4 linked regions of the Homo sapiens genome follow. The protein of the gene in region 1 purifies or fractionates together with the protein of each later gene. This does not show direct contact. Each region holds a gene or a part of one and is shown in the gene's direction. Other genes may lie near its edges.

Region 1 (5,934 bases):
GCACTCCAGCCTGAGTGACAGAGTGAGACCCTGTCTCCAAAAAAAAAAAAAAAAAAAAATTGAAAATGGTTCTTGCTGCATTTTTATGAACAAGTTAGAAAAATAGGAACTAATGCAAATTGTTATTGTTGTTAATTAATTAGATTAGAATTAGATTATTTGGACTGTTTCAGATTAATATCAGCCTGGAGGGAGGTGTCTAGTGGTGAGCCACAGGGCTCTGTCCTGTTTATTGTTATCAGTGGTTTGGACAAAGACACAGAAGATTAGCACAGTAGTTGGCTAGGGCCACCATGACAAAATACCACAGACTGGGTGGCTTAAACAACACAATTTTTTTTTTTTTTGAGATGGAGTCTCGCTCTGTTGCCCAGGCTGGAGTGCAGTGGCACGATCTTGGCTCACCACAACCTCCACCTCCCGGGTTCAAGCGACTCTCCTGCCTCAGTCTCCTGAGTAGCTGGGACTACAGGCACATGCCACCATGCCTGACTTAATTTTTTTTTTTTTTTTTTGAGACGGAGTTTTGCTCTTGTTGCCCAGGCTGGAGTGCAGTGGAGCCATCTCAGCTAACCTGAACCTCTGCCTCCCAGGTTCAAGCGATTCTCCTGCCTCACCCTCCCTGGTAGCTGGGATTACGCCACCATGCCTGGCTAATTTTGTATTTTTAGTAGAGACGGGGTTTCTCCATGTTGGTCAGGCTGATCTTGAACTCCCGACCAGGTGATCCACCTGCCTTGGCCTCCCGAAGTGCTGGGATTACAGGCATGAGCCACCGCGCCTGGCCACAACACAAATTTATTTTGTCACAGTCTGGAGGCTGGAAGCCCAAGATCAAGGTGTTGGCAGGTTTGGTTTCTCCTGAGGCCTCTCTCCTTGGCTTGCAGTTGGCCACGTTCTCACAGTGTCATCATAGGGCCTTTTCTCATTTTTTTTTAATCCTTCAATTACATGCAAGGGCCTTTTCTGTATACACACACACCCCTGATGTCTCTTCCTCTCATAAGGACACCAGTTCTATTGGATTAGGATCCCCTACCCTTATAATGTTATTTAGCCTTAGTTACCTTTTTTTTTTTTTTTTTTTTTTTTTTTTTTTTTTTTTTTTTGAGATGGAGTCTGGCTCTGTCGCCCAGGCTGGAGTGCAGTGGCACCATCTCGGATCACTGCAGCCTCCACCTCCGGGTTCAAGGAATTCTCCTGCCTCAGCCTCCCGAGTAGCTGGCATTACAGGTGCACGCCACCATGCCTGGCTAATTTTTGTATTTTTAGTAGAGACGGGGTTTCACTGTGTTGGCCAGGCTGGTCTCAAACTCCTGAGCTCAAGTCGTTCTCCCGCCTCTGCTTTCCAAAGTGCTGGAATTACAGATGTGAGCCACCATGTCTGGCCAGCCTTAATTACCTTTAATTAATCTAAATAATTAAGGCCAAGTGTAGAGACATTTGGGGTTAGGGCTTCAACATATGAATTTGGGTGGGCACAATTCAGTCCATAAGAACTGGCCAGCTAAAGTTAGGGTTCATTCTGAACCACAGGGACATATTTCAGATGAGAGAAATGAAATGAGAATGGGAATGATACCTATTATAAAAACAAGAATCAGTTATTGCCAGTTCTGTAGACAAGGCAGGGTCAGGTGGAGATTAGCAACACTGATACCTACAACATGGCTGAAAACACTGAGGTAAAGATAGGCTGCATTAGGAAGTATGGTGTCCATGAAAAGGGAGGTGACAACTCCTTGCTCACCTGGAGGGTGGAATTTTCTTCTGGATGCCAACAGGTAGAGGGTGTCAAGTGAGGGGTTGCATAAGAGGTAGAGAAGTTATTGAGCAAAAACCTTGGCACCAGACATATACAGGCATTAGCCAATGTGGTTTGAGCAGCTAAACCAAGTGGCAAAAGCTTGCCCTTTCAAAGACTTGCAGTTTGGGGATAGAAGCACTTTCAGTCCTGGCCAAAAAAACTATGGGCGTGGAATCTTGCAGGTATGCCGTGAATATCTGTTGAATAAAAAAAAAAAAAAAAAAAAAGGCCAGACAGGCTGACTCAGGCCTGTAGTCCCAGCACTTTGGGAGGCTGAGGTGGGAGGATCGCTTGAGCTCCAGAGTTTGAGACCAGCCTGGGCAACATAGTGAGATCCCTGTCTCTACAAAAAATAAAAATATTAGCAGGGCATAGTGGTGCATACCTGTAGTCCCAGCTACTCTGGAGGCTGAAGTGGGAGGATTACTTGAGCTCAGGAGTTCGCAGCTGCAGCGAGCGTCACTGCACTCCAGCCTGGGTGACAGAGTGAGACCCTGTCTCTTAAAAAAAAAAAAAAAAAAGGCCGGGCGCAGTGACTCTTGCCTGTAATCCCAGCACTTTGGGAGGCCGAGGTGGGTAGATCATGAGGTCAGGAATTGAAGACCAGCCTGGCCAACATGGTGAAACCCCCCCCGTCTCTACTAAAAATACAAAAATTAGCTGGGCATGGTAGCACATGCCTGTAATCCCGCCTACTCAGGAGGCTGAGGCAGGAGAATCGCTTGAACCCAGGAGGCGGAGGTTGCAGTGAGCTGAGATTGCACCACTGCACTCCAGCCTGGGTGACAGAGCGAGACTCTGTCTCAGAAAAAAAAAGAAAAAGAAAGAAAGAAAAGAAAATGGGCACGGTGGCTTACTCCTGCAATCCTAACACTTTGAGAGGTTAAGGCAGGGGGCTGCTTGAGTTCAGGAACTCAAGACCAGCCTGAGCAACATAAATCTGATCTCTACTAAAAATCAAAAACAAAAAAATTAGCTGGGCTTGGTGGCACTGTGCCTGTAGTCCCAGCTATTAGGGAGGCTGAGGTGAGAGGATTGCTTGGGCCCAGGAATTTGAGGCTGCTGTGATCTGTGACTGTGCCACTACACTCCACTTGAACAACAGAGTGAGATCGTGTCTCACAAAGAAAAGAAAAAGTGGAGGCTATAAAGACTAAGGTTATACTAATTGTGACTCTCAATTGCAAGTGACAGAAAACTTATTCAAACTGGCTTCCCCAGGAGAAGGCATGTGGGGCTCCTGTAACAGGGGCTCAAACTGTGGCTGGAACTGTCTGTCTCCACCTTAGTGCTGCTTTTCCCTGCATGCCCTTCAATCTTCAGTAGGAAGGAGATAGCCACAAGCTGCTTTGGGCTGACATCCTATCAGCTTAGCAAGAAGTAAAGTCAGGTGGCAGAAAGACATCTCTTTCCTAGTGGTTTCTGCAAGGTCCTAAGGCAGATTCTGATTGGACAGGCTTGGGTCATCTGGCCATTCGTGAACCAATCCATGTGGCCAGGAGGATGGAATATGCAAATTGTCCAGGCCTGGGGCACATGTCTGGGAATGGGGTCAGGATGCAGGGGCAGTGGATGTTTCGCAGGGAAAATCAGCAGAGACCGGGGGCAGTGGTGCTTAAGAGGCTGTGGCCTCGCTGTAGGTTTCAGACTGGGAGACAAGGACTCCTGGGATCTGCAGGCAACCCTCCTCTGCTGCTGCCATCCCAGGGTGGGTGGGAGAGCTGTTAAAGTTTTGAGGGGTTGTTCATCCCCCAGCTCATGGCGTTTATCTTCCATTTGCCAGACCCATCAGCCACACCCCGTCTTACTGTGATGAGTCGCTGTTTGGCTCCCGATCTGAAGGCGCCAGCTTCGGGGCCCCGCGGATGGCGAAGGGGGATGCCGCAAAGCTCCGTGCTCTCTTGTGGACGCCACCACCTACCCCCAGGGGTAGCCACTCGCCCCGCCCCAGGGAGGCACCACTGCGAGCCATTCACCCAGCTGGTCCCTCCAAGACAGAGCCGGGGCCAGCGGCAGACTCCCAGAAGTTATCTATGGGTGGGTTACACTCTTCACGCCCCCTGAAGCGGGGACTTTCCCATTCCCTCACCCACCTGAATGTCCCCAGCACTGGTCATCCAGCCACCAGTGCCCCCCACACAAATGGGCCTCAGGATCTCAGGCCTTCCACGTCAGGGGTGACCTTCCGGAGCCCCCTGGTGACTTCCAGGGCTCGCTCAGTTAGCATTTCAGTGCCATCTACCCCACGACGAGGTGGGGCCACCCAGAAACCAAAGCCCCCTTGGAAATGATACTCTTTCATCAGGGTTGCCTATGGGGCCACGGCGACAGGTATGGCCCCTTGCCAGGGTAGGAGGACATTCATCACCCAGGGAACCCCAGGTATTAAAGAAGCCCCTGTGGGGGCAGACAGACATAGCAGGGGTGGGCAGTGCCTCCCTTTATCCTGACAATCTCTAGTCGATTCTTGCCTTTTTCTCCCGATTGCGGATTTGGGGGCCACCTCTAAGATGCCTCTCTCCAGCCCTGTCTCAACCATACTCCAAATTAGTGCCAACCCAGGGGCCTGGCACCTCCCACATCATCCATTGTCTTGCTGCCAAGTGCGAATAAACGGCGTGATTGCCAACCTGGAGGGTCCCCTCTTATCCCTTCAAGCCAAGCTTCCTGCTCAGGATTAGTTTCCAGCTAAGTCTGCAAGCCCTAGAGGAGTTTTTCCAGGCTGTCTGTGAAGCCTGGGGAACACAACGGCAACTGGGAGATTTGTGAGTGAACACTGTTTCATCTTAATATGCTTCTGAATTTATTTTCATGTACTAAATAGATCAGCTCATCAAAGCCATGAATGTCACTTTTTTTCCCCCTCAGGGTAAAGGCCATTGTTAGGCCTGAGTTGATTTAAATAACAAAGTTAAATACAACAGATAGTACAAGGATGTGGCAGGCAACATGACAGCGGTGAGTGGGTAACTGAAGTTTGGGAATCTGGGGCTTCGGGAAGCGCTGGACTCTTCCTCCCGTCGGCTTCTGGCTAATGCCACTAACTTGTGGTTGGCCGGCTCTTCCTTAGCTCAGAGTACAGACAATAGTATTTTTTTAGTTTTGTTTTTAAGTTTGTTTGTGTGTGTGTGTGTGTGTGTGTGTGTGTGTTAAGGTGGGAAATAAAACACAATGGCTAGGACTTTGCCAAGTGGAGGGTCCAAGAAAGCCAGACAGTGACATGTGTGTCTGCAGAGCACTTAGGATGCAGCCCAGGACTTAGGAAAAGCAACAAAGCCTTTGCGCAGATGGAATTGCACCCAGATTGGGCAGTGTGGGCTGGGCTCTGGGCCTCTCCTTGCCCCCGTCTTCCTGTAAGGCACCTCCAGGAGGCACCAGGATTTTAGGGAGTCCAGTTGGAAGCCACATCATCTGGTTGGTACGTCTGCCTTGGGGCAGGGAAGAGTGGACACTGCTGGGGAGGGAGACCTGCAGTGCCCAGGACCAGTGACACACAGAAACACCTGTGGGGTCAGGCAGGCCAGCTGTGCTCTCATGCAAACATGCTTTGTTTTTTGTTTGTTTGTTTGTATGTTTGTTTGTTTTTGGTGTTTCTTTTTTTTGTTTTGTTTTGTTTTTTAAGACACGGGGCCTCGTTTCCTTGCCCACCCTGGAGTGCAGTGGTGCGATCATAGCTCACTGCTGACTTGACCTCCCGGCTCAAGCCATCCTCCCCCTCAGCCTCCTGAGTGGCGGGGACTACATGCATGCACCACCATGCCTGGCTAACTTCTTTTAAAAATTTTTTTGGACTGGGCGCGGTGGTTCATGCCTGTAATCCCAGCACTTTAGGAGGCCGAGGCGGGCGGATCACGAGGTCAGGAGATCGAGACCATCCTGGCTAACACAGTGAAACCCTGTCTCTACTAAAAATACAAAAAATTAGCCGGGCGCGGTGGCAGGCGCCTGTAGTCCCAGCTACATGGGAGGCTGAGGCAGGAGAATGGCGTGAACCCAGGAGGCGGAGCTTGCAGTGAGCCGAGATCGTGCCACTGCACTCCAGCCTGGGCAACAGAGCGAGACTCTGTCTCAAAAAAAAAAAAAAAAATTTATAGAGAGGGATTTCATTCCTTCCAGTAAGAAACAAG
Region 2 (3,916 bases), on another chromosome or scaffold:
TCTTATGTTTTCATTTAACTTAGCATTCTTCTCTGAGCCTTATCTGTCCTACAATGCTCTGCTTCTCCCTAAGTTCATTTGTTATTTCCTTTTTCCTGATATTTCCAGTATATTAGCAACTTAGGTTTTATTCTTATTTATTCTCTTATCAATGGTGTGGACTGTTTGTGTTGTTAAACGTCTTCAAGGACTCTTGTGGCCCTAGATCTCCTATTTGTAATGAAGGTGTTTCTTTCTCACTTTCTTTTTTAACTTCATCAAAAAGAGTATCTATTGATTGCTCAATGGATTTATCAGTGTGCCAAGCTGAAACACGCCACCTAAGTCAGCAGGCACTATACAGCTCACTCACTGCTAGCTTGTTTTTTGTCTCAATCTAACCTGGTTTTGTTCTTGATTATTTCTTTAGCAAACTTTTAACATCACAGTCCTGGCCAGGCACAGTGGCTCATGCCTGTAATCTCAGCACTTTGGGAGGCCAAGGGGAGGATCACTTGAGGCCTAGAATTCAAGACCAGCCTGGGCAGCAAAATGTGACCCCATCTTTACAAAGAAAAATTTAAAAGTTAGCCAGGCAAGGTGGAGCATGCCTATAGTCCTAGCTACTCAGGAGGCTGAGGCAGTAGGATCCTTTGAGTCCAGTAGTTCGAGGCTGCAGTGAGCTGTGATCACACCACTGCATTCCAGCCAGGCAATAGAGCAAGACCCTGTCTCTAAAAAATAAAAAAAAAAGTAAAAGCCACAGTTCATTCTACCTGAGTATTCTGTCGGCTTTGACATAATTAGTAACTTTTATCTCAAAACAGTCTTATTTTCATTGGTTGTTTCTTAGGCATTTTAGAAGGAAAAAGGCAGAAAATGTGGCATTTGAAACAGTCCCTGGGGGTACTCAGTTACTCCCCATACAAGTGCCTTCTTTTCTGAAAAAGGGAACTCTATTATTCTTTTTCTTCTTCCTTTTCTTCTACTGTTGCTCTTCTTTCTCTTTCTCTCTTTTCTTTTCTCTCTCTTTCTCTCTCTCTTTCTTTTCTTTCTTTTTCTTTCTGCTTCCTTTTCTTCTTTCTTTCTTTCTTTCTTTCTTTCTTTCTTTCTTTCTTTCTTTCTCTCCCTCTCTCTCTCTCTCTTTCTTTCTCTCTCTCTCTCTTTCTCTCGGTCTCTGTCACTTAGGTTGGAGCACAGTGGCAGGAACTTGATTCACTGCAGCCTCGACTTCCTGGGCTCAAGTGATCCTCCCACCTCAGCCTCCCAACTAGCTGGGACCACAGGTGCATGCCGCTACACCTGGCTAATTTTAAAATATTTTTTATAGAGATAGGGTCTCGTTATGTTGCCCAGACTGGTCTCAAACTCCTGAGCTTAAGCAGTCCTCCTGCCTCGGCCTCCCAAAGTGCTGGTATTACAAGTGTGTGCCACCACACCTGGCCTCTTTCATATTATTTTTTTTTTTTCAGAGACAGAGTCTCACTGTGTTGCCCAGGCTGGAGTGCAGTGGTGCGGTCTTGGCTCACTACAACCTCTGCCTCCCGGGTTCAAGCAATTCTCCCGCCTCAGCCTCCCGAGTAGCTGGGACTACAGGTGCACGTCGCCACGCCTGGCTAATTTTTTTTATTTTAGTAGAGACGGGGTTTTACCATGTTGCCCAGGCTGGTCTCAATCTCCTGAGCTCAGGCAATCTGCCCACCTCGGCCTCCCAAAGTGCTAGGAGTGCTCTTTCATATTCTTTAGACTTCTTGGTATCTACAGGTATTTCCTAGTTCCACTAGTTACACGAAAGACCTTTAATCATGATTTTTAAAGATTCTTATTCTTGTTTTCTTCTGTCCACTGGGAACACACCCAAAAGCAGTTTTATAAGCTCTTGTTTCCAGTCATTCACTGTTGAGACTCACCTCCCACTTCTTTTTCCTGGGTAGAAATTGAGGGAGTTGTTGAATAATGATATATGACATATTTACCTAAACTAAATAAAATACATACACGTGAAAATAATGGAACATGTACATCATAGCCAGTGTTAGGCTTTTTAAGTGCTAGAAACTATATTTTAATTTATTTTCTTAATAATATATGGTGTACATTTTAGACATTCAATAACTTAAATTTTAAGAACACTAGATTATCCTGTAGCAAAGAAACAGGAATGAGGACGTGACCTATATCTGTCATTTCTGGAGAACTGTTACACCCTGTTTTATTTTATGACCACAGAATAATTAAGAGAATAGTGCAAACAACATTGCTGGTGATAAAGGCTAAGGAATTGGATTTTAAGACTTTCAAAATATAAAGAAAATCAGTTTGGCATCAAAGTATGTGTGCGACTATCTGAATGGTTAATATTAAACATAGCATGCTGGCAATACACTGCTGTGTATTGGAGAAATCGGCAATTTTAAAATCCGCTATATTGAATACAGAGATGACTTAATCTAATTTTGAACATTTAATTGTAAATTGCTCCAAGTTTGCCATTTGTATCTTCCAGTATGAGTTGATAACTGCAATATATAAACTCCCAGAGAGTGTATACAATCTTTGACTCTGGCTAATGACTAGCAAAACAGGCTGTGTCCATTTAATGAGTAATTTTTGCCTTCAAAGGAGAGTTGTAATTATAACCATTTGGCCTATAAAAGGAAATTATGGGGAAATTTTCCTCACGTGGATCTTGAGGTTTATATAGATAGTTACTGTGCAGTGACTCCAAAGTTTCAGTTTCTTTTGTACTTTTATTATATGAGCTCTTCAGGTAACTTTGTTCCTTGGAATAATTCTTAAGAGAATGAACTGAATAAAAGGCTTTAAAATTTTCCATCTGCCCTTTACCTAGTCAAGTCCTGACTTTACAAATGGAAAGTTCTCGAATTCTGTGTAGCAGGTACACAGCTGTACAAAGCATACCACTTGCCATGCCATGTTCCTCTGTGCCAGATTTTCTTGCTTTTTTCCTTTTTAGCTGCTGTGTTGAAATATGAAAACAATGTCATGAATATCAGGCAGTTTAACTGTTCTCCACACCCCTACTGGCTTCCAAACTTTATGGATGTTTTCACATGGTCTTTGCCTTTTGTTGGGGAAAAAGGTAAGAGAACTAAAGCACATGTCTCATCAGTTGTTTGGTGACTGAGCATACCTTATATTTGCATGAGCCCCTCCATGATTCAGAAATGTTTTCTAATTTTGTTTGTTCTCTACATAGATTTTTTTTTTTTTTTTCTGAGATGGAGTCTCGCTCTGTCACCCAGGCTGGAGTGCAGTGGCACGATCTCAGCTAACTACAACCTCCGCCTCCCAGGTTCAAGCAATTCTCCTGCCTCAGCCTTCTGAGGAGCTGGGATTATAGGCACGTGCCACTGCACCCGGCTAATTTTTGCATTTTAGTAGAGACAGGGTTTCACCATATTGGCCAGGCTGGTCTCAAACTCCTGACCTTAAGTGATCCGCCCTCCTCAGCCTCCCAAAGTGCTGGGATTACAGGTGTGAGCCACCGTGCCCAGCCTCTACATAGATTTGTAAATGGCATGTAATTGGTTCTTAAATTTTAATATATTATGGTTTTTTTATTGTAAATATCAATTTAAAGTAGCTGACCTACTATGATCAAGATGTTAAAATAACATAGTTACTTGTCATTCCCTCAGATTTCTTCAGTACTGAAGAGATTTAAACAGAATTTATTGTCCTTACAATTTTATTTGTACAGCTACTCAAATTAGCTAAGCCTGTTGGACGTAGGCCTGTTGGCTTAACTTTGTAAAGTGGGAAAAAAATTTTCTCACGTGTGTATCAGTGTGGGAAGAAGCTCTGAACAGCAATCCGGTAAAATCAAGTAATTAGGCAATAGATCTTCAAAGACTCCAGACTTTTACTGGAGCAAGTAATCTACCCAAATTCTTTTTAAACCTGAAAGTTTACA
Region 3 (3,916 bases), on another chromosome or scaffold:
AACATATAGAAAAATTTCCAAGAAGATTCATTAATTGACTCTCAGTTAATTCATTTTATGCTTACACTCTCTTGGTGTTTTCATGTGTTTATTTATTAATGCAACCATTTACACGTTCTCCAATTGGCTGAGCCCTGTTTTAGGATCTAATGACACAAAGATGATTTTAAGCAGTGTCTCTCACTTTGGAAATTTATTGTCTAGTTTGGACTATGAGGGAATTATTTTCATATATACAATTTTTTTTCCAGGAGTAGCCATTCTTCTTTCAGTTAGTCAGGGGTCTTTTGGATTTCCCTCTCTTTCATTGGATGACATAGTTAAACTATATTGTGCTTTCTCTCATGCAGGGCAGCCACTGATCACAATGTGGATAATACAACAGAAATATTCAGGGAGTGGTTGAAAAATGTACAGAGACTCTATCACTATGTGGAGTGGAGGCCTATGGATGAACCAGAGTGAGTAGCAAGTGCGAAATTTGTAAACTCATTATTTACCCTTCCTCTTTAACTAGCTCTTTAGGGCTTCCAGGTTTGGAGGTACATGTGACTTTTCATTGTCTTTCATTTCTGTAGCTATGTGAGTTCTGAATATCTGCCATTTCTCCCTTTTAGAGATCTTCACAGTACTCTCTTGCTGTTTACTCCCACAGCTGCCAGCCAAGTTCAGATTTTCATTACTTCATAAATAAATTGCCATGACAGTTTATATTTTTAAATATTGATATTATTTATTCATATTTTAAACAAACTTTTATATTTGGAGGATCATATTGAAAATGTGTATACTTTCTACATAGAGCTTGCTTTTTTCAACTTTTATCTTGATAATCATTCTATAGCAATAGTTAAGGAGCTAATTTTCATTTTTTTTACTGCATAATCACTGTTGTATGTGCATTTACCATAATTATTTAATTGATCCCCTACTGATGCTCATTTAGGTAATTTCCTATCTTAACCATAGAAATTCCTTCTTTCTTTCTTTTCCTTCTTTTCTTTCTTTTCTTTTCTTCGCTTCTCTTCTCTTCTTTCTCTCTCTCTCTCTCTCTCTCTTTCTCTCTTTCCTTCTTTCTTTCAAGACAGGGTCTCACTCTGTCACCCCAGCTGGAGTACAGTGGCATGACCATAGCTCCACTGTAACCTCGTACTCCTGGGTTCAGGCAATACTCCTCACTCAACCTCCTGAGTAGCTAAGACCACAGCCATGCACCACTATGCCTGGCTAATTTTATTTTTATTTTTTGTAGAGACATGATCTCACCATGTTGTCCAGGCTGGTCTTGAACTCCTGGCCTCAAGCGATCCTCCCACCTTGGCCTTCCAAAGTGCTGGGATTACAGGTGTGAGCCTTTGTGCCTGGTTACCATAACAATTTCTTTCTTTTTTTTTTTTTTTGAGACAGAGTCTTGCTATGTCACCCAGGCTGGAGTGCAGTGGTGCAATCTTGGCTCACTGCAACCTCCGCCTCCTGGGTTCAAGCAATTCTCCTGCCTCAGCCTCCCGAGTAGCTGGGACTACAGGTGTGTGCCACCACACCCAGCTATTTTTTTGTATTTTGAGTAGAGAGGGGATTTCACTATGTTAGCCAGGATGGTCTCGATCTCCTGACCCTGTGATCTGCCCGCCTTGACCTCCCAAAGTGCTGAGATTACAGGTGTGAGCCACCGTGCCCGGCCACCATAGCAATTTATTAATTGCTTCTATCTCCAAGTCATCCTACATACCATACAGTCAAATCAATCTACCTCAAATACAAATGAAATGGTTTCATTTCTTTATTAAAAATACTTCACTTACTCTTTAGGACCTGAACAAAGTTCAAACACCTAAGACTTATATTTTTAAAATTCCATGAATTTAGCACCAAAAGAAAATGTGCTTTATCCAGAACGTTTCTTTTATTTCCAAACCCCACACTGTTGCTTGTGCAGGTCCTGGAAGACCCTTTCCTTCTTTATAACTAATTCTTATCCTAAATCATGCCTACTATAGAAACCTATTCTTAATCACTCAGTTATAAATATCTACCTTTGTCTCAACAATTGTATTGCTTATATTCTATGTCATCCTTTTTGGCACAATGATATACGCAACCAACATTTTCCCCCTATGCAATTAATGTATTTTTTTTCTAAATAAGTTGTAAGTTCTTTGGCAGGGGCTAGAATATATAAACACTTTATATTCCCCCTCTCCCCTCAGAGCCATGTTCTTGGCAGGCACTAAATTAATACTGGTTGGATGAACAAATAAGAACAAGAATAAATGTATTTAAAACTTACTATTATAAATGTTCCCAAAGCTACTACAGTTTTACTTTAAGGAACTGTAGAAATAGAATGAAGGAGTTGCCTGAATTTCTTCCCCAGAGAAGTCATTTATTGAAAGCCAAATTTGTATTATAGTAATAATAAATGCCATTCCAGAACAAGTTTCTGTTCTTCTAGTCTTTCTATATGTAAGAATTATTATAAATATTTATATTATAAAGAAATATATATAAATATGATATAATATATACATATGTGTTTCTCAAATCCAAGCCCATGGACTGTATATCAAGCAAAATTTAACAGTGAAGTCTGAACACCGTAAAAGATTGTAAACACTCCTTTAGAGTGCCTTATAATGGAGTTTGGCCTAACAAAAATGGCACAGAAATACTTTGTGTCCCTTCTTTGCACCTTGGTAATGTTCTCTGCAGCCAGGTTTTGACTAAATATATTATATGCCAAGGTCAGTGTGAAAAAATATTAGAACAGGCATTTTTGGGGGGAATATATTTAGAAAAATGAGAATTCCACTGATTTTCATTGAAACAATAACTGGGGAAGATATTCCAGAGAATTCCTGTGCTGTACATAGTTTTATTAACCTTATTTGTTTAGTTACAGTCTCATTGTTTTTGCAGTTTTTCACTCACTAAAACAAATGTACTGCCAGTGCAGCTATGAGATCTTGAAGTGGTGGCCAGTTTTGGGTTACTGCAACAGTATCAATGTCCGTGCCAGCTGGGTGCCTTCAGAAGGGTTTTGGAGCGTGCTCCAACCCACTTGCCTATGTGGCCATGAAGGAGTCTTGGCCTGGCTGTTTTGTGAATCTTGATAGAGATCCCACGACCTCACTTTACCTAAGATAGATCAATGTGTTAGGCTGTGTGGAATCATTTGTGGAGACTCCAACAAGTAGATTAAACCTTTGATTTTCCTGGGAAACTCATGTTTTACACTGCATACTCTCCAAATCTATTCGATGTCGGGATGTATAAAAATTGTCTAGGAACATGAGCTTTTTGCTTGGATTCAAATCTTGATTGTGCCCCATTGTGTAACATTGGACGAATGACTTAACTGCTCTACCCTGATATCCTCACCTGTGAAATGCAGAGAATAGCAGTACTCACCTCAAAGGGCTCTCATTAGAACCCACTGAAATATTTCATGTAAAGATTCTTGTATACAATGAGCAGTGAGTTACTTGACTTCTCATTGCTCCGGTTTCCTCATCTGTAATATGGGGATGATGATAACAATAATAATAGTATCTACTTCCTGGGATTGATAGAAGATTAAATGAATACATATAAACATTTAGGACAGAGCCTGGTACATGTAGGCACTCAATAATGATGAGCTATTATTATTATTTTAGGTCTTACCCTGATGAAATTGGACCAAAGCACTGGCCAACCTCCCGGTTTGCCCATGTGATGAAACTACGACAGGCAGCCCTTCGAACTGCGAGGGAAAAATGGTCAGACTACATTCTGGTAAAAACAGATGTTTGATTTCTTGACAACTGTCATCTCAGGTGTATCCAAATCAGTCGTCCAAAAACTAGAACCATGGAAGCAATCAAAACAACCTTTTTGATTAGGCAGTGCCTCCCCCACTTTTTAAGAAAGGCACAAT
Region 4 (3,916 bases), on another chromosome or scaffold:
TCCTGCCACCCACGAGCAGTTAGTGCTAAGAGATTGTTACACACCCTTCAAGGTTTTAAAAATAAGTTCAGTAATATTTAGAAAATGGGATTATAGTTGTACTGACTGTAGTATAGCCTAGTCTTCTCACCTAACAGTGCATCTTGAATGGGTTCTATACTAGGGCATTTCAAAATGAAAATAACTTTTTAAAATTATAAAAATAATATAATTGTAAAAAACGTAGACACTAGAAACCTGGATAGAAGGAAGTAAATGCCACCTGATGTTCTGCCACTTAGACACATACACTGTAAATTTTTGAAGATCTGTTTTTTCATACCTTTTGTTCTAGATATATATCCTTGTATGTGTTGTTTTGTAATTTCCCTTGTTTACATAATGGTATGTTACAAATATTGTTCCTGTCAGTAGATGAGTTTTTCTCTTGAGCCCATAGAGAAGTTCTGAATACTTGTAACTCTCCTGAAATCAGAAAAAATGTTTGTGTGTACTCTTATGGGGGAAAATTTCCACAATTTTAATCAATTTTTAAGAGGGCTCTCTGACCCATAAAAGCTTAAGAACCATTAATCATTATCATAATTTTTGGTGGTGTCATAGTATCCGTTTTGTGGCTATGTTACAACTTAACCAATTTTTAAACATTAATGATATTGCCCATTTTAAGGTATTTAAGGTATTATTAGGTATTCTACGAACCTTTGGAACATAGAAGCCTTGGGTACTCATGTGATTTAATTCCTTAGCCTGTATTCTAGAATAAATGCACATTTATTTAGTTTTGCACATTTAACATTTTGAAAGATGTTGTCAAAGCTCTCCCTTGACAAACGTTGTACTACCGTCAGTAGCGCAGGAGAAAATGCAGCATGGTTGTTAAATTTTATTTTAGTTTAGATAGGGTCTCTTTCTGTTGCCCAGGCTGGAGTGCAGTGGCATGATCATGGCTCACTTAAAGGCAGTGCATGGTGGATGACTTGAGCCTTAAAATTCTAGGCTCAAGTCATCTGCTCGCCTCAGCCTCCTGAGTAGCTGGGACTAAAGGCCCACGCCACCATGTTTGTCTAATTTTTTGTTGTGTTTGTTTTTTTAAACTTTTTGTAGACGATGTCTCACTATGTTGCTTAGGCTGGTCTCAAACTCCTGGCCTCAAGTAATCCTCCTACCATGACCTCCCTAGGTTTTGGGATTACAGGTGTGAGCCACCACACTCGGCTTAGCATGATTTTTAATGATTGGGTGATGTTCTGTTGTACAGTTGGATCAGTTTAGCCATTTCTCCCTGGCTGTTTCCACTTTTTTAATCATCATAAACAATGCTGTTGTAAACATCCTTGTGCATTCATTTCTGTACATTTGTCTGTTTATATCCTTAGAATAGAGTCCTGGTAGTAGAATTTGTGGATCAATAAATTATTAAAATTTTAATGACTTCAATAATTTGCCAAAACATCTTGATTATTTTAAAGGCATCTAACAGTTGATATTTTAGCTTAGAAGGCAAGTAGCTGATTATTATTAACTTTATTTAAACACCCTGTTCAGTAGACAGTTGGCATAGTGGAATAGGCACTGGACTAGTTGGGGGTGGTGGGACTGGCGATTGTGGCTTCTCTTCCTGGAGCCCTTGGCCCTAGTCTGACCCTGCTGCTAGCTCACACGTGGGGCCTTGGACCAGTTTCTTCCCTTGTCTGGGGCTCTATTCTCTTTTTAGGCTACTGCTAAAATCTTTTCCTAGGAAGTTTTTGAAGTTTTTACTTACAAATGAAATAACAATTTGGTAATCAAGGAACAGGGCAAGTATTGGACCACTGTTCTGTTTACTTAGAGCACTTCTGGATGTGTGGCCATGTCTCAGACAGTCTAAAGTTATGACTTTGGTTCTCATGTTAATTTATTTGTATTTTAATGATTACATCGTTTGGCAAATTCAGTATGTGTCAGTTTTGTTTTCCTTCCCAAAGAGCTAAAGGCTCACAGTGGAGAACTTTAAATCCAGCATGTTTATCTAGCACAGCTAGATAAATTGAGAGCAATTTATGTTGACAAATGTAGATCTAATTCTTCTTTTGATTTTTTTTATTTTTTATTTTTTGAGACTAAGTGTCACTCTGTTGCCCAGGCTGGAGTGCAGTGATGCGACCTCGGCTCAGTGCAACCTCGGCCACCCAGGTTCAAGCGATTCTCATGCCTCAGCCTCCCACGTTAGGAGTAACATTGGCCTCCTAATGTTAAAAAGCTGTACCAAATACAGGGAAAGGAATCTATAGAAATGGAAAAAAAGGGTCCAAAGGAACAAATATGTGCACAATTAAGTGGAGATGGTGTGGGTGGAAAATATATTCCTGTGATGTTCCTGAGGAAGTGTAAGTTTATCCTATGTGTAGTAGCAGTGGTTTCTTAGGCTATCATGGAGTTATTTTAATATTCACTTTCCTGAATGATGAAATACTTTTTTTTTGATACGAGTTCATATATGTAATTATAATATGGGTTAATTCAAAGGCAGAGGTGTTTCGACATGAGCCATTTTTCTGTTTGGGCTGTGGTGAGGTTGATACTTTTTTTTTTTTTTTTTTTTTTTGAGACAACTCTTGCTCTGTCCTGGCTGGAGTGCAGTGGCGTGTACATGGCTCACTGCAACCTCTGCCTCCCAGGCTCAAGGGATCCTCTCACCTTAGCCTCCCAAGTATCTGGGACTACAGGTACATGCCACCATGCCTTGCTAATTTTTTGTATTTTTTGTAGACAGGGTCTCGCCATATTGCCCAGGCTGGTCTTGAACTCCTGGACTCAAGTGATTTGCCCACCTCAGCCTCCTAAAGTGCTGGGATTATAGGTGTGAGCCACCATGCCTGGCCTTTGTGGCCAGGTTGATAATTTGAACAGTGGAACAGCTGAGCTTAGCACCTCCTCATTGTTAACTGTGGAGGTAGCTTATGTGCTGATCACAGAGAGGTGTGATGGGAAAAGTGCTGATAATCTTTGGAGTCAGTCCAATTTGGTTCTGAGACCGGGCAAGTTCTTAATGTCTCTGGGTTGGTTTTTTCTTTTCTAAAATGGGAATGATAATGTTGTCTTTTAAAGGGGACTGTGGGCTGGGTGTGGTGGCTCACACCTGTAATCCCAGCACTTTGGGAGGCCAAGGTGGGAGGATTGCTTGAGTCCAGGAGTTTGAGACCAGCCTGGGCAATTTGGCGAGACGCCATCTCTCCAAAAAAAAATACAAAAATTAGCCAGGTGTGGTGGTGCACACCTGTAGTCCCAGCTACTTAGGAGGCTGAGGTGGGAGGATTGCTTGAGCCTGGGGAGGTTGAGGCTGCAGTGAGCCGTGATAATACCACTGTACTGCAGCCTGGGTGACAGAGTGAGACCCTGTCTCAAAAAAATAATAATAATGGGGGCTGTGAGGCTGAGCTGAAATCAGGTGTGTGGAGTGCCTCACATAATTTATAGTTTATACTGGCTGACAGTAGATGTTCATCTAATGTTCCCTTCCCTTTTTTGTTCCCATCAAAACAATAACCCCTTAATGAAACAGTCTTAAGGAAAACTTTTTGTTACCTGACTTCTCATGCAACTTTTGGCTAAGTTACAGTGATGCTTTGTGGACTCATGTTTTTTTTCTTATGCATACTCTGATCACCAGGTATCAAGGTTACATTGGTGCAGCCCTAGTTTTAGGGGGAGTAGATGTTACTGGACCTCACCTCTACAGCATCTATCCTCATGGATCAACTGATAAGTTGCCTTATGTCACCATGGGTGAGTGTAACGTTTTCCTGATGTTTAAGAGTACTCTTACTTACCACGATGGTCTCTTGAAGAGCTGGTCTGTTTTCTCTTAGAAGAGGAGGTGCAATACAATGCTTTGATTCATTCAGCAAATATATACTGAGTTCCTACTATAGAT

What was found.
Region 2: the proteins of RITA1 (region 1) and PPP3CC purify together in Homo sapiens (affinity purification with mass spectrometry; one large-scale study listed by BioGRID and IntAct). This does not show direct contact.
Region 3: the proteins of RITA1 (region 1) and COLGALT2 purify together in Homo sapiens (affinity purification with mass spectrometry; one large-scale study listed by BioGRID and IntAct). This does not show direct contact.
Region 4: the proteins of RITA1 (region 1) and PSMB7 purify together in Homo sapiens (affinity purification with mass spectrometry, with the first as the bait; one study listed by BioGRID). This does not show direct contact.

Annotation. Positions count from the first base shown.
Region 1 is NC_000012.12:113,187,720-113,193,653, forward strand, and holds the end of RITA1 (RBPJ-interacting and tubulin-associated protein 1), read left to right. Parts: intron 1-3,590; coding exon 3,591-4,098; 3' UTR 4,099-4,649; downstream 4,650-5,934. UniProt on the Homo sapiens protein: Tubulin-binding protein that acts as a negative regulator of Notch signaling pathway.
Region 2 is NC_000008.11:22,524,436-22,528,351, forward strand, and holds part of PPP3CC (serine/threonine-protein phosphatase 2B catalytic subunit gamma isoform), read left to right. Parts: intron 1-2,956; coding exon 2,957-3,082; intron 3,083-3,916. UniProt on the Homo sapiens protein: Calcium-dependent, calmodulin-stimulated protein phosphatase which plays an essential role in the transduction of intracellular Ca(2+)-mediated signals. Dephosphorylates and activates transcription factor NFATC1.
Region 3 is NC_000001.11:183,974,955-183,978,870, reverse strand, and holds part of COLGALT2 (procollagen galactosyltransferase 2), read left to right. Parts: intron 1-350; coding exon 351-461; intron 462-3,656; coding exon 3,657-3,774; intron 3,775-3,916. UniProt on the Homo sapiens protein: Beta-galactosyltransferase that transfers beta-galactose to hydroxylysine residues of collagen.
Region 4 is NC_000009.12:124,405,169-124,409,084, reverse strand, and holds part of PSMB7 (proteasome subunit beta type-7 precursor), read left to right. Parts: intron 1-3,652; coding exon 3,653-3,768; intron 3,769-3,916. UniProt on the Homo sapiens protein: Component of the 20S core proteasome complex involved in the proteolytic degradation of most intracellular proteins. This complex plays numerous essential roles within the cell by associating with different regulatory particles.